Linked DNA regions of Homo sapiens. The protein of the gene in region 6 purifies or fractionates together with the protein of the main gene of each other region. This does not show direct contact. Each region holds a gene or a part of one and is shown on either strand. Other genes may lie near its edges.

The links.
Region 1: the proteins of AQP12B (region 6) and CLPB purify together in Homo sapiens (affinity purification with mass spectrometry; one large-scale study listed by BioGRID and IntAct). This does not show direct contact.
Region 2: the proteins of AQP12B (region 6) and TIPRL purify together in Homo sapiens (affinity purification with mass spectrometry; one large-scale study listed by BioGRID and IntAct). This does not show direct contact.
Region 3: the proteins of AQP12B (region 6) and LNPEP purify together in Homo sapiens (affinity purification with mass spectrometry; one large-scale study listed by BioGRID and IntAct). This does not show direct contact.
Region 4: the proteins of AQP12B (region 6) and RMDN3 purify together in Homo sapiens (affinity purification with mass spectrometry; one large-scale study listed by BioGRID and IntAct). This does not show direct contact.
Region 5: the proteins of AQP12B (region 6) and SPG7 purify together in Homo sapiens (affinity purification with mass spectrometry; one large-scale study listed by BioGRID and IntAct). This does not show direct contact.
Region 7: the proteins of AQP12B (region 6) and RABL3 purify together in Homo sapiens (affinity purification with mass spectrometry; one large-scale study listed by BioGRID and IntAct). This does not show direct contact.

The regions. Positions count from the first base shown.
Region 1 is NC_000011.10:72,427,685-72,431,880, forward strand, and holds part of CLPB (mitochondrial disaggregase), read right to left. Parts: intron 2,680-4,196; coding exon 2,628-2,679; intron 1-2,627. UniProt on the Homo sapiens protein: Functions as a regulatory ATPase and participates in secretion/protein trafficking process. Has ATP-dependent protein disaggregase activity and is required to maintain the solubility of key mitochondrial proteins.
Region 2 is NC_000001.11:168,181,803-168,185,998, forward strand, and holds part of TIPRL (TIP41-like protein), read left to right. Parts: intron 1-2,099; coding exon 2,100-2,279; intron 2,280-2,976; coding exon 2,977-3,076; intron 3,077-4,196. UniProt on the Homo sapiens protein: May be a allosteric regulator of serine/threonine-protein phosphatase 2A (PP2A). Isoform 1 inhibits catalytic activity of the PP2A(D) core complex in vitro. The PP2A(C):TIPRL complex does not show phosphatase activity.
Region 3 is NC_000005.10:97,022,881-97,027,076, forward strand, and holds part of LNPEP (leucyl-cystinyl aminopeptidase), read left to right. Parts: intron 1-1,640; coding exon 1,641-1,802; intron 1,803-3,736; coding exon 3,737-3,877; intron 3,878-4,196. UniProt on the Homo sapiens protein: Release of an N-terminal amino acid, cleaves before cysteine, leucine as well as other amino acids. Degrades peptide hormones such as oxytocin, vasopressin and angiotensin III, and plays a role in maintaining homeostasis during pregnancy.
Region 4 is NC_000015.10:40,737,996-40,742,191, reverse strand, and holds part of RMDN3 (regulator of microtubule dynamics protein 3), read left to right. Parts: intron 1-1,998; coding exon 1,999-2,059; intron 2,060-3,615; coding exon 3,616-3,691; intron 3,692-4,149; coding exon 4,150-4,196.
Region 5 is NC_000016.10:89,552,725-89,555,852, forward strand, and holds part of SPG7 (mitochondrial inner membrane m-AAA protease component paraplegin isoform 1 precursor), read left to right. Parts: intron 1-254; coding exon 255-411; intron 412-1,069; coding exon 1,070-1,236; intron 1,237-1,761; coding exon 1,762-1,839; intron 1,840-3,128. UniProt on the Homo sapiens protein: Catalytic component of the m-AAA protease, a protease that plays a key role in proteostasis of inner mitochondrial membrane proteins, and which is essential for axonal and neuron development.
Region 6 is NC_000002.12:240,675,525-240,680,188, forward strand, and holds the end of AQP12B (putative aquaporin-12B), read right to left. Parts: coding exon of another isoform or gene 4,624-4,664; intron 4,261-4,623; coding exon of another isoform or gene 3,962-4,260; exon of another isoform or gene 3,915-3,961; coding exon of another isoform or gene 3,748-3,914; exon of another isoform or gene 3,499-3,747; coding exon of another isoform or gene 3,399-3,498; exon of another isoform or gene 3,287-3,398; intron 2,855-3,286; coding exon of another isoform or gene 2,817-2,854; intron 2,196-2,816; coding exon of another isoform or gene 2,075-2,195; intron 1,221-2,074; coding exon 1,021-1,220; coding exon of another isoform or gene 1,002-1,020; 3' UTR 894-1,001; downstream 1-893. UniProt on the Homo sapiens protein: Putative aquaporin. Could form homotetrameric transmembrane channels, with each monomer independently mediating water transport across the plasma membrane along its osmotic gradient.
Region 7 is NC_000003.12:120,697,018-120,701,213, reverse strand, and holds part of RABL3 (rab-like protein 3), read left to right. Parts: intron 1-2,640; coding exon 2,641-2,791; intron 2,792-4,196. UniProt on the Homo sapiens protein: Required for KRAS signaling regulation and modulation of cell proliferation. Regulator of KRAS prenylation, and probably prenylation of other small GTPases. Required for lymphocyte development and function. Not required for myeloid cell development.

The DNA.
Region 1 (4,196 bases), on a different chromosome or scaffold from region 6:
CTATACCATATAGATTAGGTGTGTGGTAGGCTATTACCATTTAGGTTTGGGTAAGTATACTCTATGATGTTCACACTGTGATGAAATTGCACTACTCAGAATGTGTCCCTATTGTTAAGCAAGGCATGACTGTATGTGTAAATTCAAAGAAATAAATGAGTATGGGATTCTGTCCTGCTATAGGCAGGTCTGTTGGGCAGAGCTAAGAGCCCAGGACATTGAAGAAGAAATAAAGAGCAGCATGAACCACCTGTACAGAGTCTAGGGTACAGAAAGGCTGAATAAGGACCTACTGTAGGAATTCCAGAAAGTTTCCTTCTAGCAAGGATGGTCAGGCTCCCTTTACCCCCACTGCCCCCAGACCTGGCTCTGTTCGCAGGAAGAACTATAACTGGTGGGTTACATGTCTGTTTCCTTGAGACCAGGGCCTGGGTCACCATCCCCATCCCCCATCTGCAGTGCCCAGCAGAGGCCCACTCACTCTTTCATAATCAAGAGCTGCTTTGGGTGAGGGGGAGGGAAGGATGTCCTCATTCAGGCCCTCATCATCTTGAATCTGTCTTTACTGAAACAGAAACAGCCTCTTAACAGATCGGCCCTCAGCCTTTTCCCAATGCAGTCCATCCTTCACTCCTCTGCAAGTCAGCCTTAACTGGGTCATTCCCCTGCTCAAAAACTTCCCACGTCTCCCCACTGTGTACAGAGTAAGAGTTCAAAACTCCTCACCCTGGGCATGGCAGGCCTTGCACATTCCAGCTTCTCTCAGACAACCTTCCCTCTTTTCTGACACCCTGTACAAATCCCACCTCAGGAGCATCAACATATTCCGCAGGCCCAGCAGCCAGCCAGCATCTGCTTCCCGCCTTTGCTTAGCTTGCTCCTGGCTCTGTGGTCTTGTATGAGATGGGGGCTGAGGGCAGGTCTGTGCCTCGCTCATCTCTGATGTCCTCACATGGAGTGAAGGGAGATTCTGACAGGGTCATCCTGACCAAGTGAGGTGGGACAAGAGGAGGCAGGAGAAAAGCAGGCTAGAGCCTGGGGACACACATGAAAAGCCCCCCCAGACACTATCCACACGAGAATGAATGTTCAGAAAAATTGTCTGAATCACACATACACCGTTAAGTTCAATTACTTTCTGTATTTTTGGGATGGGTGTTTAATTGCTATTAGAAAAACATGTATTTGAAAGAACTAAATAATCAATGCCTGGCAGCTCAATGGAATATGGTAGTGGCATCCCCTGGGGGATGGAAGAGTGGATTCCCAACATTGCTGCTCTGCAAATGCCCTGCCAAAAGGGGAAAGTCGCAGCCCGGCAGCCCTTCGCAGTAGCCAACAGGTGATTCCAGGGTCAGCAAGGGTCAGTTTCCATACCCGTACTCCTGTACTGCAGCAGAATGAAGCAAAGCACATCTGTTTCTGGAGGAATGAAGATGCCACACACAGCCTGCAGTTATGAATGGCTCTTATAACAACAGGATGACATCTGTGCTTGGTTTTTAAGATGCATCATCGCATGTTTATTAAACTATTGCTCCAACATATTTATTTGGCTACAAAACAACTCCCAGCCCATATTTCCAAAAGTGGTTTATTAAAAACTAAGGCTTGAACATTAATACCCAAAAGCACCCTTGAGAATCAATAATAATGCTGCAGATAAAATGAAAGGGAATCAAAGCAGTAAGTCTTGGTGGGGTGGGCTGCTTTTCAACACTTTCTTGTATGTTCAGGAAGCTAAGGTGGGGAAGAACACCAAGGGCCTGTGGCACTGGGTGTGGAAATAGCCACCCCAACACCTGACTTCCTGTCTAACATGCAGACATGATGGCAAGGAAGGGGGGTGTCCTATGGCCACCTAGCTCTATATAAATGGCCAAGAGAGGCCAAGGTTAGGCCCAGTGGGGGGCATAGTTTCAACAAGAATAAGACCTCTGCCCTTAACCAACAGCCCTGTAACTGATGCCCCATGCTGGCCCCAGTCTGAGCATCCATCCTGGACACAGACTCTGCCCTATACCTGGCACTGGGCTGAGCCGAGTTGAATCTTGCCCTTGCCAAATAATAAGCCTCAAATTCAACCTGCCAGTGGTCACTGGAGACTAGCTGAGCCAGTGAAGCTACAGAAATGCAGTCTGTCCCCGGGCAAAGCCAGGTATGGGCCCCTGGCCCTGCAGGCAGGCATTTCTAGCCCCAGACCTTCTGGCAGATGGTCTCTTCCAGCTCTGTCCCAAATCCCCAAGCCTTTCCATAGATGCCGACCTGCAACCTGTCCAGGCAGCAAGCAGTAATACATGGCCATTCCCAAAGAAATGAGCACAAATCAGAAGATTCAGAGAAGAACCCAAAGGATATGGGGGCTGAAGGGAGTCCAAACCAACCCAGTGAAGAACAAAATAGCTGAAGGATCCAGGGATGTTTGGGAGCTGACTCCCTACCGAAAATATCCAAGGGGTGATCTGGGTAAAGGAAGCCCAGGTGACTCTGTGACTACAGAGATGTCACAGGGGACAGTTCCCAGCTTAGGGTAAGGATTTCCTCCAAAGCAAAGTCATCACACGAGAAGAGGCTCGCCCTGCTCAGCCTCTCCTGTAGGGGAGAGCAAGGCCTGGGGTTCAACTCACCTGCTGACTTCTTGCATATTGTTGGCACGGGCAGCTTCCAACAGGGCTGCATCTGAAGAGAAAGGGGGCACTGGTCAGATCCGCGGCCAGGACATACCCATCTCAGGACTGCGTGGAGGGCCCACTAAGACAGTGGCAGTACTTTAGAAACGTGGACTTTGACAAGCAAACTGATGTCACAATATATAATGAGAAACGAATCATTCCCTCCCCACATGGTGTCCACTGTTAACAACCTGACTTCCACACCTTTCTACTACAGAGCCCAAACTCTTCACTCCTCTCATCATAGAGGGAATGCAGGTCAACTGCTAGCACCACGTCTTGCCTATGGTAAATAATGTGCTCTTCATAATCTATGAAGCTCTGCATATGCTTTATGTTCCTATAAGAGTTATTACTAAAGATTCCCTGATCTTGTCCACTTTCTCCCTCAACTCCAGTTCTTCAACCCAGTTCTGAATCTTGATGTCAAGTCATAAACCCAAAAGGAAAGGTAGAATGGAGAGGAGCAAGCAGGGTGTAGGCCTCTCTGAGGATGGAGAGGTCTCAACTAGGAGTCTTTGAGATCTAGCTCCATTCCACTCCCACTACTCACCACGTGACCATGACAGCTCCTCTCTCTCTCAACCACAGCTTTCCTGACTGTAAAACATAGACAAAACTCCTTGCCCTGCCAGCTTCACAAGGATGTCAAGGAGATGAAATGACAGTTGAGACGTCTGCAAACTCCCCAGTGCTGAGCCCAGGGAAGGGAGACCCAAAGCAGAGGAGACACTAAGCCTAGGAGAAAAGCAACGCTAGCTAAGTGCGTCTGGCCTGGTCTGGGCAGCCTGCAGGCTGTTGCCACCACCTTGTGGCCATAAAGAAAATTGGACTGACTCAGAAAAACTCAAAAGTCAACAGGAGAGGCACAATCTTTTCAAATAGCTCAATACCAGGTACATGGAGCCCTCTGTGCCCAGCCTGGTTCTGAGCTACACTGCTGGGCAGTGGGCGGATTCATAGCCAGCCCTGACTCAGGGAACTCTCAGTCCAGCCAAAAGACTCACTCATGAGCAAATGCACTGGAGTAGAGTGAAAGAGCAGGATCTGGAGACAGTCAGACCTGGGGTCTAGCCCAGCTCTGTCGCTTATTTGCTGTATAACCTAGCCCACCTATCTAACCTCCTGAGCCTTAGTTTCCTTATCTGTACAATACACCTTATCATGCATATGAAAGCCAGTCCTGTGGTTCAGACATTGATGCCTCCTGGCCTAGATTCCAGGGACAGGTCCTTTCTACTTACCTTACCGGATGTACCTAAAGCACATACCCAAGCATGGCTCAGACAGCCACCAGCTGGGAGGGGATCAAGCCTTCCTTAGAGATGGCTATATCCACTCTCCCTTCACTCTGCAGAAAAAAATGTGGCTTCTACAAGGTTACAGAGTGAGGAATGAGCTAAGAACCAGGGCCTCCTGGCTTCTAAAAGGGTTCAGTTTCTACCACACTGCACTGAGGGTCAAAACTCTAAGTCAGGGGACAGGGTAGCTGGCAAGTCAGTTCCAGCAGGAACTGGTCACGGC
Region 2 (4,196 bases), on a different chromosome or scaffold from region 6:
GTAATCCCAGCACTTTGGGAGGCTGAGGCAGGCGGATCACCTGAGGTCAGGAGTTCAAGACCTGCCTGGACAACATGGTGTAACCCCGCCTCTACTAGAAATACAAAAAAAATTATCTGGGGGTGGTGGTGCAGGCCTGTAATCCCAGCTACTCTGAAGGCTGAGGCACGAGAATCACTTGAACTTGGGAGGTAGAGGTTGCAGTACGCTGAGATCGTGCCACTGTGCTCCAGCCTGGATGACAGAGTAAGACTCCGTCCCCCACCCTCCGCCAAAAAAAAAAAAATGCCTTTTTTTATATGACAAAAGGAAGACTTACCCTCACCAATCCCAAATTTTTCTGTGATGCATTATCATAGATTGTAAAAACCACTAAGGTGCTAAATAAATTGGTTGGGTAAAATATTGGATTAAAGAAGCTCTTCTAATGAATATTTAAGGCACCTTAAAACCACAGGAGCTTCCTGTCTTCTCTCCTTGTAACTAGTTATACCTGTTTTTAAGTGGGAAGCTTGATGATGTTAGAAATAGGGCATTTTCAGGCCGGGCGCGGTGACTCACGCCTGTAATCCCAGCATTTTGGGAGACCGAGGCAGGTGGATCACCTGAGGTCAGGAGTTCGAGACCAGCCTGGCCAACATGGTGAAACCCTGTTTCTACTAAAAATACAAAAATTAGCCGGGCATGGTGGCACGTGCCTGTAATCCCAGCTCCTAGGAAGGCTGAAACAGGAGGATTGCTTGAATCTGGGAGGCGGAAGTTGCAGTGAGCCAAGATCGTGCCATTGCACTCCAACCTGGGCAACAGAGCGAGACTCCGTCTCAAAAAAAAAAGAGGGCATTTTGGCCTATGTTTAAGAAACTCTATATTTAGAACACTGAAGGACTGTAAATTAGTAACAGTGATTCTTTTACATATATGAGTGGAATATTTTATAGGACTGCCACATTTTTCCAGATATATTGGTTAGAATCCACAGACTCACATATTATTTCACATTTGGTATGCATTATTCAAGTTAAAACTTATTTTATGGAATCTTATGGAATATATATTCCAATTACAGTTTATTGTATCTAATCTTTTAAGTATTTAATATTTTCTATCTCCTAATAACAAAGAATAAATTTTACTTAAAATTATGATGAAAGTTAACATTGTTAGTCCTGAAGACCATTGTTAACATTGTGCAGTCCTGAAGACCTGCACCTCAAAGTTAGATCACTGATATGTGCACACAGAAATACACGTTTAGATGTAATAAATATACAATGTGTGTCCAGTTTTTTTCTTACTATTTTATCATAAGCATTTTTTCATATTATTATAGTCTCTCTTTAAACATTTGTAATGGTTCCATAATATTTCATCATATGGATATACTTTGGTTTGCATAATCATTTGTTGCTTTATAATGAAACATTCAGAGTATTTCTTTTTCATGATTATAAGTAAAGCCATTATAAGTATTAATGTGTATAATATTTTTCTGTACTTGGAATTATTCTTTAGTACAGGTATTCTAAAACTGATACTTTGGGTCATAAGTGTGTAAATTATGTTAAATTCCTGTGATTTTTTTTTTTTTTTGCTTGATTGTTGCCCCAGGGTGAAATGTAAATTGACACAATCCTTCTGAAAGTCTGTGTAGGCAAGTGCTGAGTTCCCTCATCAGTGTCAGGTGCTTTTGCTTTTTTCATCACCACGTTTTGAAACTTTTAACAATTGAGAATTTTAATGGAAAAATTATTTTCCTACAAGAGACAGTATCTTTAATTGCTTTGCTATCTTTTCTTCATACCCTCATGATATATATTATAGTAATATCTGTGTGCTATATATTATAGTAGTATAATAAGCTATTATATTACGTATTTGTATATTTATCTTATTTAGCCCACTACTTAGTACAGTGCCATATGATGATGAAAGAATGGATGATGAAAGCATTTTATAGACCTTGCAAATATATCATATTGATTAAATCATGTGCTGTGTAACTCATTCAGCAAGTAGGAAGAATTCTGTTGGGATGGAAAAGAAACAAAAATGCCAACAGCGATATAAAATTATCTCACCCGACTTTTGGTTACGTATAGATTAGCCGATGAATTACATATGCCATCTCTCCCTGAAATGATGTTTGGAGACAACGTTTTAAGAATCCAGCATGGGTCTGGCTTTGGAATTGAGTTCAATGCTACAGATGCGTTAAGATGTGTAAACAACTACCAAGGAATGCTTAAAGTGGCCTGTGCTGAAGAGTGGCAAGAAAGCAGGTGAGAATCCGGTCAATTAGGTTAAACAAAAAAGGTAATTAGGTTAAACAAAAGAGAAAAGACTTGAAAAAATATTCAGTAATGATACGTGTGTGTTGTTAGAATGAAGGGCTGGTATTATTAAACTTGAGAGTTGTATCATTCTAGAATTCGTTTTTCTCAGACATAAAAATGGAAGTTAATTACCCCACTGCTTGAATACTTGTTAAAGTGAATTACAACTGAGCTGAGCTATGTACGTTTTCGATTTTTCAGTGTTCCTTACTGAAGAGGCAGTAGGCTATACTTAATGTTCCTGTTTTTAAGAAAAAATGTTTACTTATGATATGCTTAATAAATACCCTATTTGAGAAGCATTGAAATTAAGACAACATGTTTTTCTTTGATAGTCAAATCAGCAATTATTTACTTTGTGCCTAATATGTACTAAGTACCTTAGATGATACAAATAAGTATAAACCTTTAAACCATGTCCTCAGGCTGTATACAGACTAATTGAAAAGACTACATCAGTACATGACAAGTTAAATAATAAATGCAGAAAAACTGTAAGAAAAACCTTGTACTGGTGAATTATAACAAGTGTATATATTTAATAGGATATGTTATTATAGAATATAATTTGATGTGATATATAAATACAGATAATCTCTATTCTGCATCACTGAATCTGATCCTTCTCATTTTGGTATTTGAGGACGGAGGGTGAACACTCCAAAGAGGTTATTAAACCATATGATTGGACCTATACAACAGATTATAAGGGAACCTTACTTGGAGAATCTCTTAAGTTAAAGGTAAATCTTACTTTTTTCTTTCATGAGTCATTGATTGTCTTGGACAGTCTGAGCATTAGAACTTTCTAGTAACGGGTTATTTTTTGCAACTATTTTTATCGTCCTTGTTTTCTGTTGTGGCATTCCTCAGAACCTAATGTGAGGGGGTTTTGCTTGTTGACTTATCAGTAGAAAATAAAAGACGGCATTAGTGGAAAAATTTATTTTTAAAAGTGTAGTTGGTGGCAACGGCAGACGGCCTTGTTGTTATCATTATCACTATCAAGAAACATTAAAATGTGTTTCGGGCCTTGGTAATGTATTACATGATTTAGACAGAACCTGCTAGCTTGTAGCTCACAAGTTTATAGATGAACAAATATATGAGCAAAAAGAACTTCTGGTTAGACAAAGTAGGTTTATGCCCTGTCTGCCCTGAGTATGAACCTGAAATGACTTTAGGAAGTTACTTAATTTGAGTCTCAGTTTTATCAATAAATTGGGTAAACAGAAATATCTACCTCAAAGCAGAGTTTTGATGTGAAATAATTTATGGGAAGCTCTCAATAAATTCTAAAGCTCTATATTAGTATTAAGTCCTGTGTGTGTAAGCCCTGCTTGAGAAGAGATTGGGGCCAGGCGCAGTGGCTCACGCCTGTAATCCCAGCACTTTGAGAGGCCGAGGCAGGCAGATCACGAGGTCAGGAGCTCGAGACTAGCCTGACCAACATGGTGAAACCCCTTGTCTATTAAAAAAAAAAAATTAGCTGGGTGTGGTGGCGCACACCTGTAATACCAGCTACTCAGGAGGCTGAGGGAGGAGAATTGCTTGAACCCGGGAGGTGGAGGTTGCAGTGGGCCAAGATCGCGCCACTGCACTCCAGCCTGGGTGACAGAGTGAGACTCTGTCTCAAAAAAAAAAAAAAAGAAGAGATTCGGCCAGGTGCAGTGGCTCACGCCTGTAATCCCAGCACTTTGGGAGGCCAAAGTGGGTGGATCATGAAGTCAGGAGTTCAACACCAGCCTGGTCAACATGGTGAAACCCCATCTCTACTAAAAATACAAAATTTAGCCAGGCATGGTGGAGCATGCCTGTAGTCCCAGCTACTCGGGAGGCTGAGGCAGGAGAATTGCTTGAACC
Region 3 (4,196 bases), on a different chromosome or scaffold from region 6:
TGCGGTGTCAAACAAGACTTTTTAAAAAATTGTGGTAAAATACACATAACATAAAATTTACTGTCTTAACCATTTTTTACTGTACAGTTCAGTAGTGTTAAGCATATTCACATTATTGTGTACTATATTTTCAGAACTTTTACATCTTGCAAAACTGAAACTCTGTACCCATTGAATAATTCCTCACTCCCTCTCCCCACCAGCCCCTGGTAACCACTATTCTACTTCCTGTTTTTGTGAGGTTGACTACACTGTATATCTCATATAAGTAAAGTCATATAGAATTTGCTTTTTTGTGACTGGCTCATTTCATTTACCATAACGTCTTCAAGGTTCTTCCATGTTGTAGCATGCATTAAAATTTCTTTCTTTCTTTCTTTTCTTTTTTTTGGAGATGGAGTCTTGCTCTGTCACCCAGGCTGGAGTGCAGTGGCGCGATCTCAGCTCATTGCAACCTCCACTTCTCGGGTTCCATTGATTCTCCTGCCCCAGTATCCGGAGTAGCTGGGATTACAGGCATCCGCCACCACACCTGGCTAATTTTTGTATATTTAGTAGAGACGGGGTTTCACCATGTTAGCCAGGCTGGTCTTGAACTCCTGACCTCAGAAAATCTGCCCACCTAGGCCTCCCAAAGTGCTGGGATTATAGGCATGAGCCACCATACCTGGCTAAAATTTCTTTCTTTTTAAAGGCTGAATAATTTTCCATTGTATGTATATACCACATTTTGTTTATCCATTCATTCCTGGATAGACCTTTGTGCTGCTTGTACCTTTTAGCTATTGTGAATAATAATGCCATGAACATTGGTGTGCAAATATCTCCTAGAGACCCTGCTTTCAATTCTTTTGGAAATACACCTGGAAGTAGTATTGCTGGATCATATGGTAATTCTAATTTTAATTTTTTGAGGAACTGCCATATTGTTTTCTACAGCAGCTGCACCATCATTCCAATTTCTCTACATCCTTGCCAACACTTGCCATTTTCTGGGTTTTTGATAGCAGCCATCCTAATGGGTGTGAGGTGATAAACAAGTCTCTTAATTTAGAAATAAAACATAGCAGGTAGAGTTAGCAGTTAACAGAAAAGCTTTTGGGGGTAATTAGTTCTCTCCAGCTCCTTACCGTGCATTATGGAGAGAAGATTCAAGCATCAGATGAAGAGTTGGGGTGGAGGATTTGGATAACGTTTTGAGGTCTTTCCCAGCTCTGAGATCTTAATAAAGGCAGTAGACTGTGTTTTCTCCCTGCACCCCATTTACTGCTATAGTTCTACCATGAAACTTATCACACTGAATTGTAATGCATATAGTTATTGCTCTATACTTCGTAGTAGCCTGTGAGTTCTCAGAGGACAGAGGCTCTCATTCCTTTTCCGCTCCCTAGTGTCCAGCCAGTCGCCTGCCTGGTTCTTTGTGAGTACTCTGTGAATATTAAATTGAACTGATGTATCCATAGACACACTACTAGGAAGATAGCAGTCACTGAATTAAACTTTTTCTCAACCCTAAATTGTGTACTCAAACTTGTTATTATTACCAACCCTCACACCAGAAACTCCACCACAGCCAACTCTTCGCCTTTGTATTCAGAATATTTTCTTGTTATTCTCATGTTTGACCACCTCTCTTACAGCCTACCTACTGATGTCATGACAACTGTGTTCAAAGTTGGAGCAAAAACTGACAAAGGCTGGTCATTCCTTTTGGGCAAATACATTTCTATAGGCTCTGAAGCAGAGAAGAACAAAATACTAGAAGCACTTGCCAGCTCAGAGGATGTGCGGAAGCTTTACTGGTATGAAATCACCGAGGAATATGATATACAGAAACCAAAAGAATACAAACACTGTGCTCTTGGTCAGGAGCTCATTTTTGAGGGGATCTCTTTTCCCCACTTCTGTTACAGGCCAGGCCTAAGTTGGACAGTGTGGTGAGGAGACTACAGGTGCTGGGCTTTATCTTTATGGACAAGCAGAAAATCCTTTGCCCAAAAGGGATTACAAGATGTCAGGAGTCACAGCCCCCTCCTACTCCTTGCTCAAAAAGTCTTCCTCCCCTTGGAATGTTGTCTTATACACCACAATTGGTACTCCATAGTTTAGGACCAAGGCATTGCTTTGTGCAAGCTGTCATTTTAAAAATGTAGGCATTTCAGAAAAAAAAAATCACATATTAAACCTTCTAGGTTCTACGTTCATATGAATTTATTTGTCAGACTTTTCCTTTTTAATATGTAGTGATGAAGGCCCAGAAGTAGGAGTGTCATATGGATGAAGGTAGGGCAGTAAGTAGGGCCTCCTGACAGGAAGAACAGGCAGTGGTGGGGTAGAGGAGCTCTACATAGCCAAGAGGAATATAGAGGTATCTGCTGTAGAGAGCACAGGTGTTAGAAGTCGCACTGAGGATAGAAGGAGGCTTCTGGGTCTCATTACTTCTGTTGTATGATTTTGCTCAGATAAATCTTAATAGTGTCCCAGAGATGTCCTCAGTACCTGTCCAGACCCACTTACCAAAAGATACGCTGTAAATAGTCATTTTCTTTAAAGTATTAGCCAGCCTCTGACTTAAGCAAATAGAGAAAAATCACTGTTTTTAAACTATGCTAGTAATACACTAAGAATGCCCATGATAAAGAATTTAAACAGTACCTAAGAATATAGAGTAAAATATGAAAGTATTTCTCATGATCCTTCACTTCCATTCTCGTTTTCTCTGTTAACAACAGTGTCAGTCCTGGTCTTTGTATTCATCTGTGGGAATGGATATTTGTACATATGTACGTACATACATACACACATACCTACATATTTAACTGCATTTTAAAAACCATATTAGGTTTATACCATACCCAGTGTTTTGTGACCATCTTTTTAGTGAATGATCAGTCTATGAGATTTTCCATGTCACTTCATGAAGCCTGCTTTATATATAAAAAAAAACTAAAGTGTTTTATGGGTTCATAATATTCTGTAGTATGGCCCTATCATAATTTATTTAATCCATCACGTTTTGTTGGGCTTTTGTTTTTTTCTCTCCTAAAAATACTGCCACAGTCTTGGAGTGGGGCGTGGTTTCTCACTATAAACAGATAGTATAGCATAGTAGATGAGAACTGCTTTTGTTCAGATGTCGGGCTTTGGTATTTATTACTGTGTGACTGTGGGTCAATTAGATAACCTCAGTTTCTTCAACTATAAAATTGAGTTAGGTAGTATTAATAAATACCTACTTTATAGCATTGTTGTGTCAAGGACTTAGAACATTATTTAGTACATAGTGTCAGTAAATGTTTGCTACGAACATTAATAAGAGTATATTCTGAAATGTATCCTAATTTTCAAATAATTCAAATGACCTAGTTTTTTTTAAGAATAGTAATATAATTAACCTGCCCATTCAAATCAAATAAGGTTTTTACCAGAAAAAAATACCCACCTCCCGAATTGTAATAAATTCTACCAGAACTTATTTCCTAAATGTTTTTACTATTTAAAAACTATTTATTGTCATGTGACAATATAGGTAAATGCCTATTTTATTGGTGAGTTCTTTCTTCATTTAAAAAAAATGACATTTTCAATCTATAGATCAACCGTAGACTAATGCAACAGTTATTTCTCAATTTGCTACACAGCTTTAATTAGGAAACCATACTAATTTTAATTTAAGTTCAGTCATCACTTCTTCATGAATAATAATTTTGGAGGCTAAATCTGCTTTGCTCTTCAGGTTAATGAAAAGTAGCCTGAATGGAGATAACTTCCGAACACAGAAGCTGTCTTTTATCATTAGAACAGTGGGTCGACATTTTCCTGGACACTTACTGGCATGGGATTTTGTCAAAGAGAACTGGAATAAGCTTGTACAGAAGTAAGTTTCTCAGAGAATTATTAACTTTTAGTATTCTCAAGTTGTGCATTTGAAAAAAGCTCCCAGTGTTTTGGCTCACAGAAGTTAGGATTTGCTGTGAGAGGAAAAATACTTCCATGACAGTTTAACTGAAACATCCGGAAATTTTCACATTTGTTAACATAATTCCATAGCATGAATCATTTAACAGTAGCATTCCATCTAAGTTCTAATTAAGCCTAGCCTTGCTTGGCACCAGGTTACTTAGCTCAGCGTGGCTACAGACTATTTCATAGCAACCATTTAGCTATGCATATTGAAAAATACCTCTGTATGGCCG
Region 4 (4,196 bases), on a different chromosome or scaffold from region 6:
TACAAAAAAAAAAAAAAAAACTTAAAAAATTAGCCAGGCATGGTGGTGGAACATGCCAGCAGGAGGATTGTTTCAGCCCAGGAGGCAGAGGTTGTAGTGAACTGAGATTGCACCACTGCACTCCAGCCTGGGCAACAGAGAGAGACCCTGTCTCAAATAAAAAAAGGAAAACATTTCAGATTAGCCAGTTTACCACCTCAATGCATTACATTTGTTCCATTTTCTCCATGTTCCCTTCCAAACTTGTTTTCTTCAAAGAATTCTTGGCTGGGCACGGTGGTTCGCACCTGTAATCACAGCACTTTGGGAGGCTGAGGTGGGCGCATCACCTGAGGTCAGGAGTTTGAGACCAGCCTGGCCAACAAGGCAAAACTGTCTCTACTAAAAATACAAAAATTAGCCAGGTGTGGTGGCACACACCTGTAATCCCAGCTACTCGGGAGGCTGACGCAGGAGAATCACTTGAACCTGGAGGCGGAGGTTGCGGTGAGCCTAGATCGTGCTATTGCACTCCAGCCTGGACGACAGAGTGAGACTCTTGTCTCAAAAAAAAAAAAAAAAAAAAAAAAAATCCTATGTTGCAGTGTCTTCTCCAGTGCATAGGCATGATGGTCCTTATCTGGTGGTCCGTAAGCTCCAGCCTCGATACTCTTAAGTGACGCTTGTCAGAACTTTCATGTTTATGGGCTTTCATTTCTTTGTTAGAACACTAACCTAGAAAACTCGGGTAAGACTAAGTGAACGTCATCTCTGGTCAGACCTCAGTCCATGTGGCTCTTGTGAAAGAGTTTTGGCCTAGAGCTAATTAATATTGTTGGATCGTGGATCCTTTTGAGAATTTTTTTTTTTAAAGAGATGGGGTCTGCCTATGTTGCCCAGATTGGTCTTGAACTCTTGGTCCCAAGCTATCCTCTCCTTGGCCTCTCAAAGTTCTAGGATTACAGGTGTGAGCCAATGTACCCATCCCCTTTAGGGAATTTTTTCAAAGCTGTGATCTCTCTCCCCACTTACTTAAATTTTATACAACTTGAGATTCATGGACACTGCCCCTCCAGAGTAAGGTCTGTTGGGGACAATTTCTGATTGTGTTGGATCCGTTGTTGTTGTTTTTTTTGAGGTGGAGTTCGTCGCCCAGGCTGGAGTGCAGTGGTGCAATCTTGGCTCGTTGCAACTTCTGCCTCCCAGGTTCAAGTGATTCTCCTGCCTCAGCCTCCTGGGGAGCTGGGACTACAGGATGTGCCAACATGCCTGGCTAATTTTATATTTTTAGTAGAGGCAGGGTTTCACCATGTTGCTCAGGCTTGTCTCAAACACTTGGCCTCAAGTGATCCACCCACCTCGGCCTTCCAAAGTGCTAGGATTACAGGCATAAGCCATCGTGCCTGGCTGGATCCTTTTATATTTTAAATGCTAAAATCTGCTTCAAGCACATCAGGTGGGCATTATAAAAAGAAGGTAACTGGGGTTTCTAATGACAGATGGGGAAGCCAAGGTGAAGCAGAAGTCATCCCTGAAGTCTTCCCTTAGAAGCCGTTTGCAGCCTTTTCTGAGACAGTCTTGCTCTGTCACCTAGTCTGGAGTGCAGTGGTGCAATCTCGGCTCACTGCAACCTCTGCCTCCTGGGTTCAAGCGATTCTCCTGCCTCAGCCTTTTGAGTAGCTGGGACTACAGGCGCCTGCCACCACGCCCAGCTAATTTTTGTATTTTTGGTAGAGATGGGGTTTCACTGTGTTGGCCAGGCTGGTCTCCGACTCCTGACCTCAGGCGCTCTACCCGCCTCAGCCTCCCAAAGTGCTGGGATTACACAGCACAGAGGCGTGAGCCACTGTGACTGGCTTCTTTGCGGCCTTTCATTCTGCTCAAGTTCACAACTATTTCCAAACAAGTCCAAGCTGGGTAGGGATTGGTGAGAGCTAAAGCAGTCATTCTTCCCACAAGCCTTCCTATGAAAGTGTGCATAAGAGCTATGTCAACTCTGGATCTACCTTCGTCCTACAGGAAAAGAAGAAGCAGAGGCTGCTCTGGAGAAGGGGGATGAGAGTGCTGACTGTCACCTGTGGTAATAACACCCTGCAGTGTTCTGGGAAGAGCCAGCAAGGGCCAAAGCAGAGGACAGCCCTTTCTTTTCTCTGCCTGGGCCACAGAGGCATTTTCCAAAGGATCCAGGAGAGGGAGTTCTGGCTTGTATCTCCACATGCCTCAGTCTACCCCTAGCCAGAGACAAGGGAAGTTTCTGGTAGGGGAGGTGGCTTAGGGATGAGGCAAGCGGGGAATACAAGCTTTTTTTCTGATGGGGCTTGGAGAAATGAGTAGCTTTGTTAAGAGTCATCCTAGCTACAAAACTGGAGTTCTTGGCTCTCAGGAGGCTGGGACAATCTGCAGCTCCCCTATCCTGCATAAGCTCTTCTTTCCCCTGCGTGTGATCCCTGGCTGCTGGTACTTTGGCTTCTTTGCTTGGTTCATGTGAGGAAAAGTAGATGTGAGCTCACCCCCCAGAAGTTTAGTGGTCAATTTATTAGGCTGCAAAAACATCAGCCCTTTTTGTGGTCTCATGTGAGGCAAAGTTCTGTCAGCTTACCTGGGCCACGGCTAACTCATATCCTGGGGTCTGGTTCCAGCACCTGAGTTTTAGTGAAAATGTTCCTTTCCTTTCCCACCGCCACCCTTGCTTTCCATGTCTCCACCCTCAGACTGTGAGCTAAGTGAGAGGCTGTGTTTCTCCATCTGTTGCTGAAACTTTTGTCTCTGCAAGGGTTCTTCTCAGAGGCCAGGTAACTGTTTCTTGGGTGTCACTGCTTCCCTGGGCTTCCAAGGATGAACAGCTATTCCTGAGGAACAGCTGTTTGGATTAAACATGGAAATGAGCCTCTAGAAGTATCTGATACCCCCCGGATACTTAGCATATACATGAAAAAGCAACTTGGGCTGGTTACTCATCGAATGTCAACTGTGCTGCTAGGAACAATGCTGGGGGGATGGGGAAGTAAGACTTTGTTTCTGAAGACAGATGATGGGAAGCTGGCTGGCTGGTTCCCTTTGGGAGGGGGGATGTGGGGGAGAAGGCATATATAGGAGGTCTTTCTTCCTCTGGTTCTGTTGGTTTCCAAGTAACATCAGAAATTCCTAGAATATCCCCTCCCAATGTGACTATCCTAAGAAATTGCTTCCCAAGTCCCAGTGATACACCTGTATGCTTAAAGGCTAATGAGACCCACTTTTTTGTCTGCCCAGAAGATAAGTAGTATAGTCAGGTCTCATACTTTTATGCTGATTGTTTTCATGCTTTTCAAGTTTTTATTAATGCCTGTGGCTGTACTCCTTATGAGTGTAGGAGAGATTTACTGTGTAAGAGAGATTTACTGTGGTGAACCCAGCTTTTTTTATACCTAGAATACTTTGGAGACTTGTAAGCCTACCATTATCTACTAAAGAATACTAATTGGGGCCAGAGGTCCGTAAAGAATGGGGATTACGTACAGATGAAAATTAGGTATTTTCAGCTCTAGTTGAGGGTACAGGGATAGGGGACAATGCAACTAGGCTGTGGTTGGGGCATCCATTCCTTGCAGTGATGGTACTCAGCCCTTGTCCCTGAGCTTGCTGCTTCCCCCCTAGGTATGCGGTGCTTTGTGGTCAGCTGGCTGAGCATGAGAGCATCCAGAGGCGCATCCAGAGTGGCTTTAGCTTCAAGGTGAGGACAGGCTTTTCCTCCTTCCTTGTGCTGGCCTATCCCAGATTCCCCACTCCTTTCCAGCTCCCTGCCAAAAACTTTTCTACAGCCTCAGTGACTTGCCTTTCTTCTTTTTTTTTGAGACAGAGTCTCACTCTATCGCCCAAGCTGGAGTGCAGTGGTGTGATCTTGGCTCACTGCAACCTCCTGGGTTCAAGCGATTCTCCTGCCTCAGCCTCCCAAGTAGCTGGGATTACAGGCATGTACCACCATGCCCGGCTAATTTTTGTATCTTTAGCACAGATGGGGTTTCACCATGTTGGCCAGGACTGGTTTCGAACTCCTGACCTCAGGTGATCCACCTGCCTCAGCTTCCCAAAGTGCAGGGATTACAGGCATGAGCCACTGCATCCGGCCCTTGCCTCTCTTTTAGCAACTCTGGTGTCTGATGTTAGTTTATATTTACATTTTCCCCTTAGGAGCATGTGGACAAAGCCATTGCTCTCCAGCCAGAAAACCCCATGGC
Region 5 (3,128 bases), on a different chromosome or scaffold from region 6:
GACTCCCTGCCTGTCTAGTCATGTATGAGAAGACACTTCCCGGCAGTGTGTGAACAGGCACCTGTGGTGGGAACGCTGCTGTCTCTGGGCTGGCCATCTAGAGTGTTAGGATCCCCTGTTGTTGTAGAGGATGCTGCACATTTGCCTTCCTGCTTTGAGACGCTTTAATGACGGAGACCTCTTAGTCCCACACCTTCCTCCTCAAAGCCCACGCATCCTGCCTACTGACCTGGGTCATCTTGACCTTGTGCCAGGTCTCCATAACCCCTCGGACAAACGCCGCCCTGGGCTTTGCTCAGATGCTCCCCAGAGACCAGCACCTCTTCACCAAGGAGCAGCTGTTTGAGCGGATGTGCATGGCCCTGGGAGGACGGGCCTCGGAAGCACTGTCCTTCAACGAGGTCACTTCTGGTGAGGAGCAGCGGCGCGGGCCCTGGAGGTTTCAGAGCGCTTTTCCCTGCATGACTCCTTCTGTTCCAGTGCATGCCATGGGGTGAATCTGGTGTAGACGTAGCTTTGAATTTATTAAGTATTTTGTAAAAGATAAGTTGTGGTCATAAGAGAGTTGGAGCTAAGCAAGACTTCTTAGATAATTTAATTGGACAAAAACTTAACCTATATGCCAACTCTAGACACATTTAATTGGTTAATTGTTGGTAATGGCTACAGGAAACGGAATAAAATTGAAGCGGCTTCATTGTTCTGAAGCCATTACTGCACTGGGATATCCAGAGAGCTGAAGGAGGGTCCCGGGGGCCCCTGGGCTCCAGGTCCATGGGTTTGCCTCGCATAGGCCTGGGCTTGTGCTTGAGAACTGCCATGCAGTGAGCTCCAGTATGCCCCCGGGTTCTAGATTTCCAAATAAAAGAGCATTTCGGAAAGTTTTAAGACTCTCTTAAGGAACAGTGGTGAGGTGCCAACGTCCTCACTGTCCAGCTTCACGGTGGGTCCTCGGGAGGAAGGGGATGGAGGTGGTGCTGCCTCAGTGCTCTGACCGGGACACCTGGGGCCCAGCACTGCTCTGCGCCTGCAGTGCTGAGGATGCCTCTGTCTCGACCCCGCCCTCCAGGGGCACAGGACGACCTGAGGAAGGTCACCCGCATCGCCTACTCCATGGTGAAGCAGTTTGGGATGGCACCTGGCATCGGGCCCATCTCCTTCCCTGAGGCGCAGGAGGGCCTCATGGGCATCGGGCGGCGCCCCTTCAGCCAAGGCCTGCAGCAGATGATGGACCATGTGAGTCGGCTCTGGCCACACCGCTGCCCTCTGTGCTCCCCGGGGAGGGAGTCCCTGGGTCTACCACACAAGGGTCGCCCACGGCCGCCCCAGCGGAGCTCAGCTGCAGGCCCCACCTGGGTTTCTTCCTTCTGGGCTCTGCTGTAGTTCCCACCTGTGGAGTATTTTCTTCTCAAATGAGGACATAGATGCTCCTAATGAAATTATAGATGTGAATCTGGGAAGAATATCAAATAAATACACCGAGCAATAGACCCAGGGCCCACATGTCCTTCAGACTGGGCCAGGAAGGGCCGATGTGTGCCTGTGAGGCAGCTGTGGGTGGGTGTGGGTGGGTGGGCTGGCATGCGGAGCCCTGCTTTCCTGGCACTGGTCACAGGGGCAGGAGACCACCTGTCGGCTGAGGAGTCCTGTTCCTCCTGGGAGGGGAAAGGCCGTGTTCCCAGTCTGCCATTTCTTTTCTGTGCTTTGGTGCTGGAGCCAGGCGGCCAGCCTTGCCCCTGACACAGTTCCCTCCACTCACAGGAAGCAAGACTGCTGGTGGCCAAGGCCTACAGACACACCGAGAAGGTGCTGCAGGACAACCTGGACAAGTTGCAGGCGGTGAGGCCCTGGCCAGGCGTGGGGGCTACGGCGTCACACAGTGTCCACACAGCACCCACGGTCCCCACCCCTCTCGTGAAGTATTTCCAAGGCACACAGAGTACAGAGAACACTCTGACCGATGTGAATTCTACCCAGCTCAACTGAAACTTACGTGTTCCATACTTTTTATCCTGAACTCGTCAAGTGTGTTCCCCCGAGGTAGAAAGAAGGCTGCCACAGTCTCCTGTGCCTCTTCCTGCCATTAGCAATTACCAATGTTTTGTCAGTTTTGTTTAATCTTTTCCCAAGTCTTACACTTTTTTCTTGAACATTTTTTTAAAACAAAGCTTTAATTTTAGAGTAGGAATTTTTTTTTCTTTTTTTTTTTGAGACAAAGTCTTGCTCTGTCACCCAGGCTGGAGTGCGATGGCGACATCTTGGCTCACTGCAACCTCTGCCTCCCGGGTTCCAGTGATTCTCCTGCCTCAGCCTCCCGAGTAGCTGCGACTGCAGGCATGCACCAACACACTCGGCTTTTCTTTTTTTTTTTTTTTTGAGATGGAGTCTCTCTCTGTCACGAGGCTGGAGTGCAGTGGTGCAATCTCAGCTTACTGCCACCTCCACCTCCCCAGTTCAAGCATTCTCCTGTCTCAGCCTCCCAAGTGTCTGGGATTACAGGCACGCGTCACCATGCCCAGCTAATTTTTGTATTTTTAGTAGAGGTGGGGTTTTACCACATTGGCCAGGCTGGTCTTGAACTCCTGACCTCAGGTGATCCGCCTGCCTCGGCCTCCCCAAGTGTTGGGATTACAGGCGTGAGCCACAGCCCCACGCTGATTATAGTGTTAGATGTAGAAAAGTTGCAGGCGCGGTGCAGAGAGCTCCCTGCCACCCTGCCTCGCTCCCGTGGAGGCCCCCATGGGGCAGTCCTCCCACCTGAGGAGCCCCCGCCGACCCGCGGTGTTGGGTCCACACGTGATTCAGATGTGCTGAGTCTCCCCAGTGTCCTTTCCGGTCTTGGGAGTCCACATGGCGTTTGATCGCCCATCTTCTTAGGCTCCTCTGGGGTGACAGTTCCTCAGACCTCCCTTGTTTTGAGGGCTCTGGCAGTTTTGAGGATTGGTCTCATGTTTTGTAGGACGTTCCTCAGTTGCGATTGTCTGATGTGTTTCTCACAGTGGGCAGAGCTGGAGTGAACGTTTTTGTCCCTGGGTTTGGTAACTGCTGCTTAGAACTCAGGAGAGGTGCACGGCTCTTTGTCCCATGTTGTGAACAGATGGGTAGGCAGTGGATAGGTAGTTGTTTCT
Region 6 (4,664 bases):
TTTCCAGGAATCCTGTGGATTCCTCCAGCCCCAGCGCCCCTGCCCGGGACGGGACTCTAGAGGGCGCCACACTCCCTTTCTCCAGTGGGAGCTTTGGGCTTCGCAGGAAATCTCTGGTCTTTCACTATTTGCCAACTCGCCCCTGAATTCCTTCTCACGATGGTGTCAAGAGCCTGGACGCTGGCCGGGGTGGAGGTCTCACTGGGGTTGGGGTGTCCCGTAGCCCCCCGCATCGAGGACATCTCCCTGCTTTCTCCTCTCGTCCTTCCCCCATAGCAGAGCGGCTGAGCCCAGGGCTGCTGCCCACCAGAGGACGGGGTACAGCCTGTGGCAGGAGCACCGGCCACCTCACTCCCTCCCTCTGGGTGGGGCAGCAGGACCCATAGCAGAGGGCCGTTATCTCCTTTGGGTGGAAGTTTCCAGACCGGCTCTGTTCTTTGGGAAGGAAATGGCTGGAGGTGCCATGCCTCCAGGTCCCAGTTCTGCCACCAAGGTCTCAGTGATTGACCTGGCTTTGGGCGGCGAGCGGACCATGGTCCTGACGGTCGCGAACTCAGGGCCCGTGGGACTGGGTGCCCTGTGCCTAGTTCACAAGCCTACAGCCTCAGGCTCCAGCACCATCCTCAGCATCCCATCGGGTCTCAGGCCTCCGTGGCTGTGGGCTCCCTCCCGGGCATGTCCAGGGCTGCAGCATCATCTTGGCAGACTTGGGACCTGGCGGACTCCCTGGGCTCTTCCCTGTCATCCTGCCCTTTCCTCTCCTGCTTCTTCTGTAACAAGAGGCAGGAAGGAGCCCGCGGGAGATGGGGAGACTCGGACCAGCCTCACCGTGTTGCCGCACACCCTTGCCTGCCCCTCCAGAAGCCTCTCTCGGGCCCAGGGGGACACACAGGTCTTAGAAATGGTTTATTGACAAATGGCTTCTGGGGAGGGGGCCAGGATTCCCTCTTAGCTACAGAAGGTTCCAGGGTCCAGCTACAAGCAGGGCCCTCGCACGGGGCTCACACAGAGCAAGGCCACTCAGCTGGAATGTGGCCCCTCAACACCACTGCGCCCAGGCTCCCGGACACTGGACCCCTTTGCAGGGGTCTGGGTGTCCCCTGAGGCCGGGGCCGGCTTCCCTCGGGGTGCTCGGTACTTGTTCTTCTGGCCGTAGAACAGGTTCCTCTGGAAAAGGTGGGGAAGGCGGCCCTGGTGCAGCAGCACAGCCAGGACCATCCCTGCAAGAGAAGGCAGGTCCCAGGTGGGCCGCGGGGCTCCTGGGCCCAAACACAGACAGGACACCCACTCCCAGGCCTGTGCCAGGACAGGCGAGCCAGGCAGCCTGGCCAGGAGCCCCAAGAACCCTGAGGCCCAGCTCCTGCCTGGTCCTGGTCTTCCCGCCCTGGTCATGCCCCTCTCTCTGGGTATGCCAGCCATGGGGACGGGGGCAAGCCGGTGGGGTTCCTTGTACTTCTGGACCACCCTCTGGGATGAGTGACTGGAATTCCCCTCCCCCCACATTGTCCTGAGCCACTCCCAGAGCTTCTGTGGCCATTTTCCTCCGGGACCTGATGTGGCGTCCCAGGGTGGCTGCTTGCAGGGCTGTGGCCTGGCGTAGAGGTGGGGGATGTGAGTGGACAAGAAAGATGTGGATGCCCCTGGGTGGGAGGCTGGGCCTGGCTAAATCCTCATGCGAACGTTCTCCCAGAACTCCAGGAGCAGAGACTCCTAAATCCCCGCCTGCCTTCCAGGTCATTGGGAAGGGCAGGTGTTCCGGGCAGAAGGGGAGAGTAGATCCTCTTCAAGTTTGATCTCACTCCTCTAAGGATTTAACCCACAGTGTGTGAGCTCCACTAGGGCTGGCCTGAGGGGGCCCTGCCTGTCACCACCTGCAGCTGCTGTGGCTCCTGACAGTGGCCCCTGTGCCTACAGCTTGCCTACAGTTGCCCCTCACTCGGCCCTCCAGGCCCACACTGGTCCTAGCTCTGTTCCCAGGAGGGCAGGCCCAGGGAGGCGGGATGACCTGCTCAGGGGTGCTGCCAGCAGGTGCCGGTGGCCGCTCACACCCAGGGAGATAGCCCCATGTCCACACCTGGCTACGGGGCTCCTGGCTGCAGCCTTGGAGCTCCCCAGGGCTCATGCTGATACTGAACTTGTGGATAAAGGGGTTAATGGAAGGACACAAGCCTGTTTTTCGGTTTCCTGAAGCTGCCCTAAGATGACAGGAAAGGGATGCTGTCAGAGGTGTCAAGCATCCAGATGGATGAGACGGGAAGAGACGCAGGAGCACAGCGTGGGGCTGACAAGCATGTGGACGACCAAACACTGCTGACATGGAGGGGCCGGATCGCCCCTCCGCAGGGACGAAAGCTGGGAAACAACCCAGTTCTTCCGCAGATGCCCCATGCTTTCAGAAGCTGGCGCCCGGGTCCCTGTGGGATGGGGTGGCCCTGGGACTCGCCTAGGAGGAGGGACGGCAATTCCGCATGGGAAGCTCCAGGGCCCCAAACCCCAAAATACAGAAGCAGCCAGTGCCCCCCTCCCTGGCCCTGGCAGGAGACAGGTTCCTCTCTAGAGGGGGCATGTGGACTCGAGTATCAGGCCCGCCCAAGCCTGGAGTCCCGCCTGAAACACGGATCCCAGCCTCCTCCTACTTGGCTCCTAGAAGCCGCAAATGCCCTTTGGGCTTCTCCACAGAGGCAGTTCTACAGTGAGAGGTTGCAGCCGGGTGAAGAGTATTTCCCCAGCGACACGCCCTTCCCAGAACACAGGATGTGCCCTTGTTAGAATACGGCCTGGGACATAAAATCAGTGAAATCACGGTGACGTCATACTTGAGTAGAGTGAACCTCCAATTCGATGACTGGTGTCCCTATATGAAGAGAACAGACAATGACACAGAGGAGGCGGCCAGGGGAACCGGCAGACATGGGAGTGCTGCGTCTCCAAGCCCGGGGACACCGGGGGTGCCAGAGGCCCCCGGAGCCCGGAAGAGGCAGGAGGCTCCTCCCCAGCAGCCTCCGAGGAGAGCTGACCCTGTCAGTGCTGCCAGCTCAGACTCCAGCCTCCAGAGCTGGCTGAGCATACAACCCTGTCACGTGAAGCCTCTTCGTTTGCGTCCTTTGCCTTGTAGCCCGTGAAGCCACCACAGGCCATGGTTGGGGCCTGAGAAACTCAGGACGAAACTGAGCTCCCACCCGGAACCCTGCCCAGGCCTCACCGACACTCAAGTGCAGGTCAGAACCAGGACACTATTTCAGACACAGGAGGTCTGAAGTGTACCTGCCAGGTCCCCGTTCTCAGGAAGCTACTGTGAGACGGGCACCAGCAAAAAGAAGGAATCAACCGAAACAGGAGGCGATGAGGAAAGCAGGAAACAGAAATACAACCAGGATCAGTGAAGGGCAGCACCATACCGGAGATGGACGCCTGCGGGTAACCCGGAGCTGCGGATCCTCGGGGGAGACGCTGCCCACACAGAGCACTGGTGCTGAACTAAGGAAAGCACCCAGAAGCCTGGGCAGGAGAGAGTCCAGGACCTCGTCACCCGCAGGAAGCAAGGCCTGTGCAGGAGCGGAGAGGCCTCCGGGGCCACCACAGCTCACCCGGGCCGTGTTTCCATGCCAGGGAACTAGAGGGGGCTCTGGAGCTGATCAGGAGGAAGAGGCCGACCCACCCGGAGTGAAGGATCCGCAGGAGGAGCGTGGGGAGGCAAGGAAAGAACATCCGCCCCCCACATCCCAGGAGACAGCCCAGGGTTGATACCTGAACTGAAGAGTCTCGGAGAAGCCCTGCAGGCCCAGTGTGTGGGGACAGAGAGGCCAACACGGAGCTGTTCCTAGCAGAGGGCAGTGCTGCCTCGGCAACGGGGGCAGGAGGGGGTTCCTGATGCACTTCGTATGCTTCCTAGGACCCTGCACATGCCTGAGAGACTGTGACCACATCAGAACCATGGCGACAAATCACGATGACGTCAGTGTCACCATCGCAGGGCCAGGTGCCTGAGAGACCCCCAGCTCCTGTCTTTCCCCCCAAGGGGAGGCTGAGGCATTGCCCCTGAGACCTCCCCAGTGTAGAGCCAGCAGAAGCTGAAAAAAGCTTCCAGAATTCCATAGGAACCCAGCTGCCCTTCTGGTACCTCAGTGAGGTGGAGCCGAGTGTCTGAGAGCAGGTGCAGGAGAAGGTGTGGGCTCCACCTGGGCCTCTGAAGCCAGGGGCCAGAATCCCCAGATCTAGGTCCAAGAGGGGGCTCCATGACCTCCCCATGCTGCTCCTCTGCTTGGATCCAGGATATAAGAAAGGAGGGGCACACACTGTGGGGGAACTCTGGGGTCCCCTGTGTGCATCAGCGAGTCCCGGGTCTGCCCCACCAGGATGCAAAGGGCCTGGCTGCTCCAGCCCCATGCTCACAGCCCTATAAGTGCACGATGGCACCCTATATCATCTAAGCGGGGCTCTCTGCCTCCTGAGGCTTTAGGGACACCAGAATGAGCCCCCCTCGGCGGAGTCTGGCTCTGGGTGTGTGGAGATGCCACCTGGGACGGGAACCCCAGGTGCATGGAGCCCCACTGCAGACACCATCCCCCGTGTGCCCAGCACCCCTTGCAAGGTTGGCCTTTCCCCAGCCTGTGGCCTCCTTACCTGGCTGCAGCTTGCTCGGCACCGGGACGGTGTCCACAGTG
Region 7 (4,196 bases), on a different chromosome or scaffold from region 6:
ACTAAAATAGAAAGATCTACAGAGGGTACATTATTAGGTTTAACAAATCAAAATGCAGAGAATATATATCGTATACCTCCTATTGTATAAGAAAGAAAAGAAATAATATGTATTTATATTTGGATAAAGAATCAGTGAAAAATAAGAAACTAATAAAAATGGTAACCTATAGGGGGCCAGGGGAGATGGGTGGATGGGTACAGTGGTAGGAGCAAGACTGCTTAGCATATATCTTTTATATCAGTTTGAGTTTTTAGCCATATTTAAACAATTTAGGTAAATTTTATATTATGTAGTTTTTACCACAATAACTTTTTTTAACTTTTTATTATAGAAAATTTTAAACATATGTAAATACAAAGAATGGAAAATGAACTCCCATATACCCGTTGCCTAGTTTCAACAATTATCAACATATAGCTAGTCTTGTTTCATCCATATCTCTACCCACTTTCTATCTTCTCCCACTCTCAACTGGATTATTTTGAACCAAATGTTAAAACATCATATCATTTCATCCATATATACTTTAAAACATAAGGGCTTTTTTTTAACATGACACCATATAATTATCACAGCTAAAACTTTAATAATAATTCTTTAATAACCAAATATTATTTTAATTTCCCCAATTGTCTCATAAATGTTATAATTGATTTTTTCGAAATAGTATCTAAATAAGGTCCACTGGTTGTATTTGGTTTCTTAAGTATCTTTTAATCTTAGGTTCTCCCTTTTTGGTTGTTTTTTTTCCAACCTCCTAGCACTTTATTTGTAGAAGAAGATGGCTGTTTGTCTTGTACAGTTTCCTATATTCTGGATTTGCTGATTGTCTCCCTGTATTGTCTTTTAAACTTGTTTCTCTGAATTCTAAATCTTCTCTGAAGTGATAATTAAATATAGTGGTCTGAAAGATGCAAGTTTTTTTGTCTTTATTTTTCCACCCAGTATTATGCATATAATATGATACCTGGCTGTGTGTCTCTTTGTGATGTTAAGGAGCTATCAGCCTTATCCATCCATGATAAAGTTCTTCAGAAGTTTACCAAAGAAGATTTCAAGATTAAATTTTAAATTGGATGCTGCAAGATTTTATGAAAAAGTTAAAAGGAAAGCTAAAAAGAGAAATAAGAGAGCAAACTATATATGTATGCTTTATATGTGTCAGTGTGCAAGGAATTGTGCAAGACTATATGAGAGATGTATGTACATCAAAGATGATATTTGATAGAAGATATGCAAAACTTTGTATGTGAGACAGAAGGAAACAGTCCTAAAGGAAAGACACTCTCAAAACTTCATTCCCTAACAAAGCGAATTGTAGCTTTGAACCATGTCTCTTTAATTAGAGTTGCTGTTGATATGAATAATCAAAGGTCTTGATCATGCTATTATTGGCTTTGATGCAATAAATAGAATGGTAATATTTTTGTGAGATGGGAGGTTGTATAGTAAAACACTTGTGTTCCGAGGCTGAACAGTTTGCTGAGGCGCTGTAAGATTATTGTGAAGGGCATAAATACTTAGTAACTTTGCCCCCTACCCCAATTTAGAATTTCTGTAAGAGAAAGAAAAGTAGTGTTAAAGGAAGAAAAAAAGCTATGCTCGACTGGGTTGTAGTGATTGGATTATGCAATATTGATTTACTGTCATAAATTGTGCACAACCAGATTTTGCTGACTGTTGTAAGTTGAGCTTATAACGTGTCAGAAATCCAAATCTGTTTTATTTCTAATATGTGAGTAGAATTTAAATTAATTCAACAGCAATGGCCTCTGTGTTCTTTTCAGTAATGAGAAGTATCATTTACATCACCACTCTGTTCTTTGGATAAATAAATTTTTTAAAAAATAAGGATTGTAATAGCCAGTGATCCAAGGCCACTAACCCTAAGTGGTTCTTATTGCCCGTCCTCTATCTCCCATGGCTCTCATTTCAGGAAACAACTACTTGGTACTAAGTTCTTTCCTTTTACTATTCATTTTGCATTTCAGCTGTTTCCTTCCATTTCCATGTGTTTAATCCACCTTTCCCAGGCTATAGTATCACCTATATTTGATTTATTCTAGGCTTCAGCTTCCCTATTTCTATTTTCTTATTCTTCTTATTTCTTTACTATTCAGACAGAAATGTGTATTGTAGATATAGAATTAATGCATACCCCAAAAGGTACCCAAGAAGCTTGCCATTTTCTCTTCTAGCACAAGGCTTGAGTGCCATGCTAGGCTTTTGGGTTTTTGCTACGATGAGGCTTAAATCCACTCTCTGCTTCTACTCTGAAATATTCCTGAGCTGTTATGTTAACCTTAGAAGACACAGCTACATTGGAAGTTAAGTCCACTGACTGTAATATACTTGATGGGCACTTAGTTGTTCAATTATTCAGTATTGTTCAATATTCAATAAAAACATGGGACCAAATTTTGAGAAGTTAGATGAATAGCTGGAATCTGATGATGAGGATGGATTGATAAAAGAACAAGTAGATGGAAGAAGTTGGAAGGAAAGTAGGTTTGTAGGTGAAGGCAGCAAAAATCAGTTAATTTTCAGTAAAATAGTGTAACTTAGTTGCACTTAAATATTACACATCTACACCAGAAAGATACATTCTATTCACCTCTTCATTATTATTTATCACAGGGATTATGATCAAGAACAGTTTGCTGATAACCAAATACCACTGTTGGTAATAGGGACTAAACTGGACCAGATTCATGAAACAAAGCGCCATGAAGTTTTAACTAGGACTGCTTTCCTGGCTGAGGATTTCAATCCAGAAGAAATTAATTTGGTATGTATTTTCACTAATGCATGCTTGTATTATTATCGGGTAAAGACAAAACTGAAGACATATTCAAATAATATATTCTAGTGAAAGAAGCTTTATACTTGAAATCAGGCTATTTGGATTCTAGTCTAAACGTAGTCAAGATTGGAATCAACATATCTAGACTGAGAGATGTGCACAGTCACTTCAGCCTTTTATGTTGGTCTGTTGGAATGTTCCAACTTTATTCTATGAATAATTTAAATCATAGGCTTCTTTTTTTGAAACAGAGTCTCGCTCTGTCGCCCAGACTGGAGTGCAGTGGCGCGTTCTCAGCTCACTGCAGCCTCTACCTCCTGGGTTCAAGCGATTCTCATGCTTAGGCCACCTGAGTAGCTGGGATTACAGGCATGTACCACCATGTCCAGCTAATTTTTTAAATATTTTTAGTAGAGATGGGGTTTTGCCATGTTGCCCAGGCTAGTCTTGAACTCTTGACTGGATTTGCCCTCCTTGGCCTCCCAAAGTGCTGGGATTACAGGCGCGAGCCACTGCACCTGGCCCATGGGCTTTTTCTTGAGAAAGGTTTTTAAAATCACACCAAAATTAAAATAAATTGATTAAAGTGGCACTATAAGCATATTATTCTTGCTTTTAAAAAGCCTCTTAGCTTCTTAAACTACAAATTTTACCTTAAAGGGCAACGTAACAAATACATGAAAAAATTGCAAACCTTAAACTAGGAGTGCTTCATAAGGACTAATTTATGTACACTTATGCATATATAGAGGATTGAGTCCCTTGATGAGATAACTAGCTCAATGAGAACTGAGCGCGTAAAAAAGCTAAGAAATGGTTGTCATGTAAGCCTGTTAGGATCCCAGAAAAAGATCCTGGCCAGCAATTTCAGTCATGGTCATGTTGTTCACAAATAGGATTTCTGCAACTGTGCACTGGCATTCCAGAAATGCAGTGGTGGTGGTGTAATAGTACTAGTGAGCAACATTTATTGAGCACTTACGGGTTGAAAACTGTTTTAGTTATTTACATACATTATCTCACATGCATCATCTTCACAATCAACTCTATAAGACAGGTACTATTACTATCCTCTTTTTAAAGATAAGAAGGAGAGACGTAACAAGACCAAGGAAGTTTACCCAGGTCAATTAGGGTATTCAGATTCAGAGCCTGTGCTCTACAGTTAAGCCTCTTTTGCACTTAATTAATCCTTCAACTCACCTTGAGAATTTGGCAGCTGAAAAAACTCTTAGAAATCATCTAGACCAACAGTTACCCAAATCTGATTGTGTATTTATATTACCAATAGTACCTATGGAAAATTTTGAATAACCGTCCCACAGCTGGAGCTTTTTATTCATCAAGCCTGGCAGGAGGACCAGGAATCTGCAGTTTTAACAAATAACTC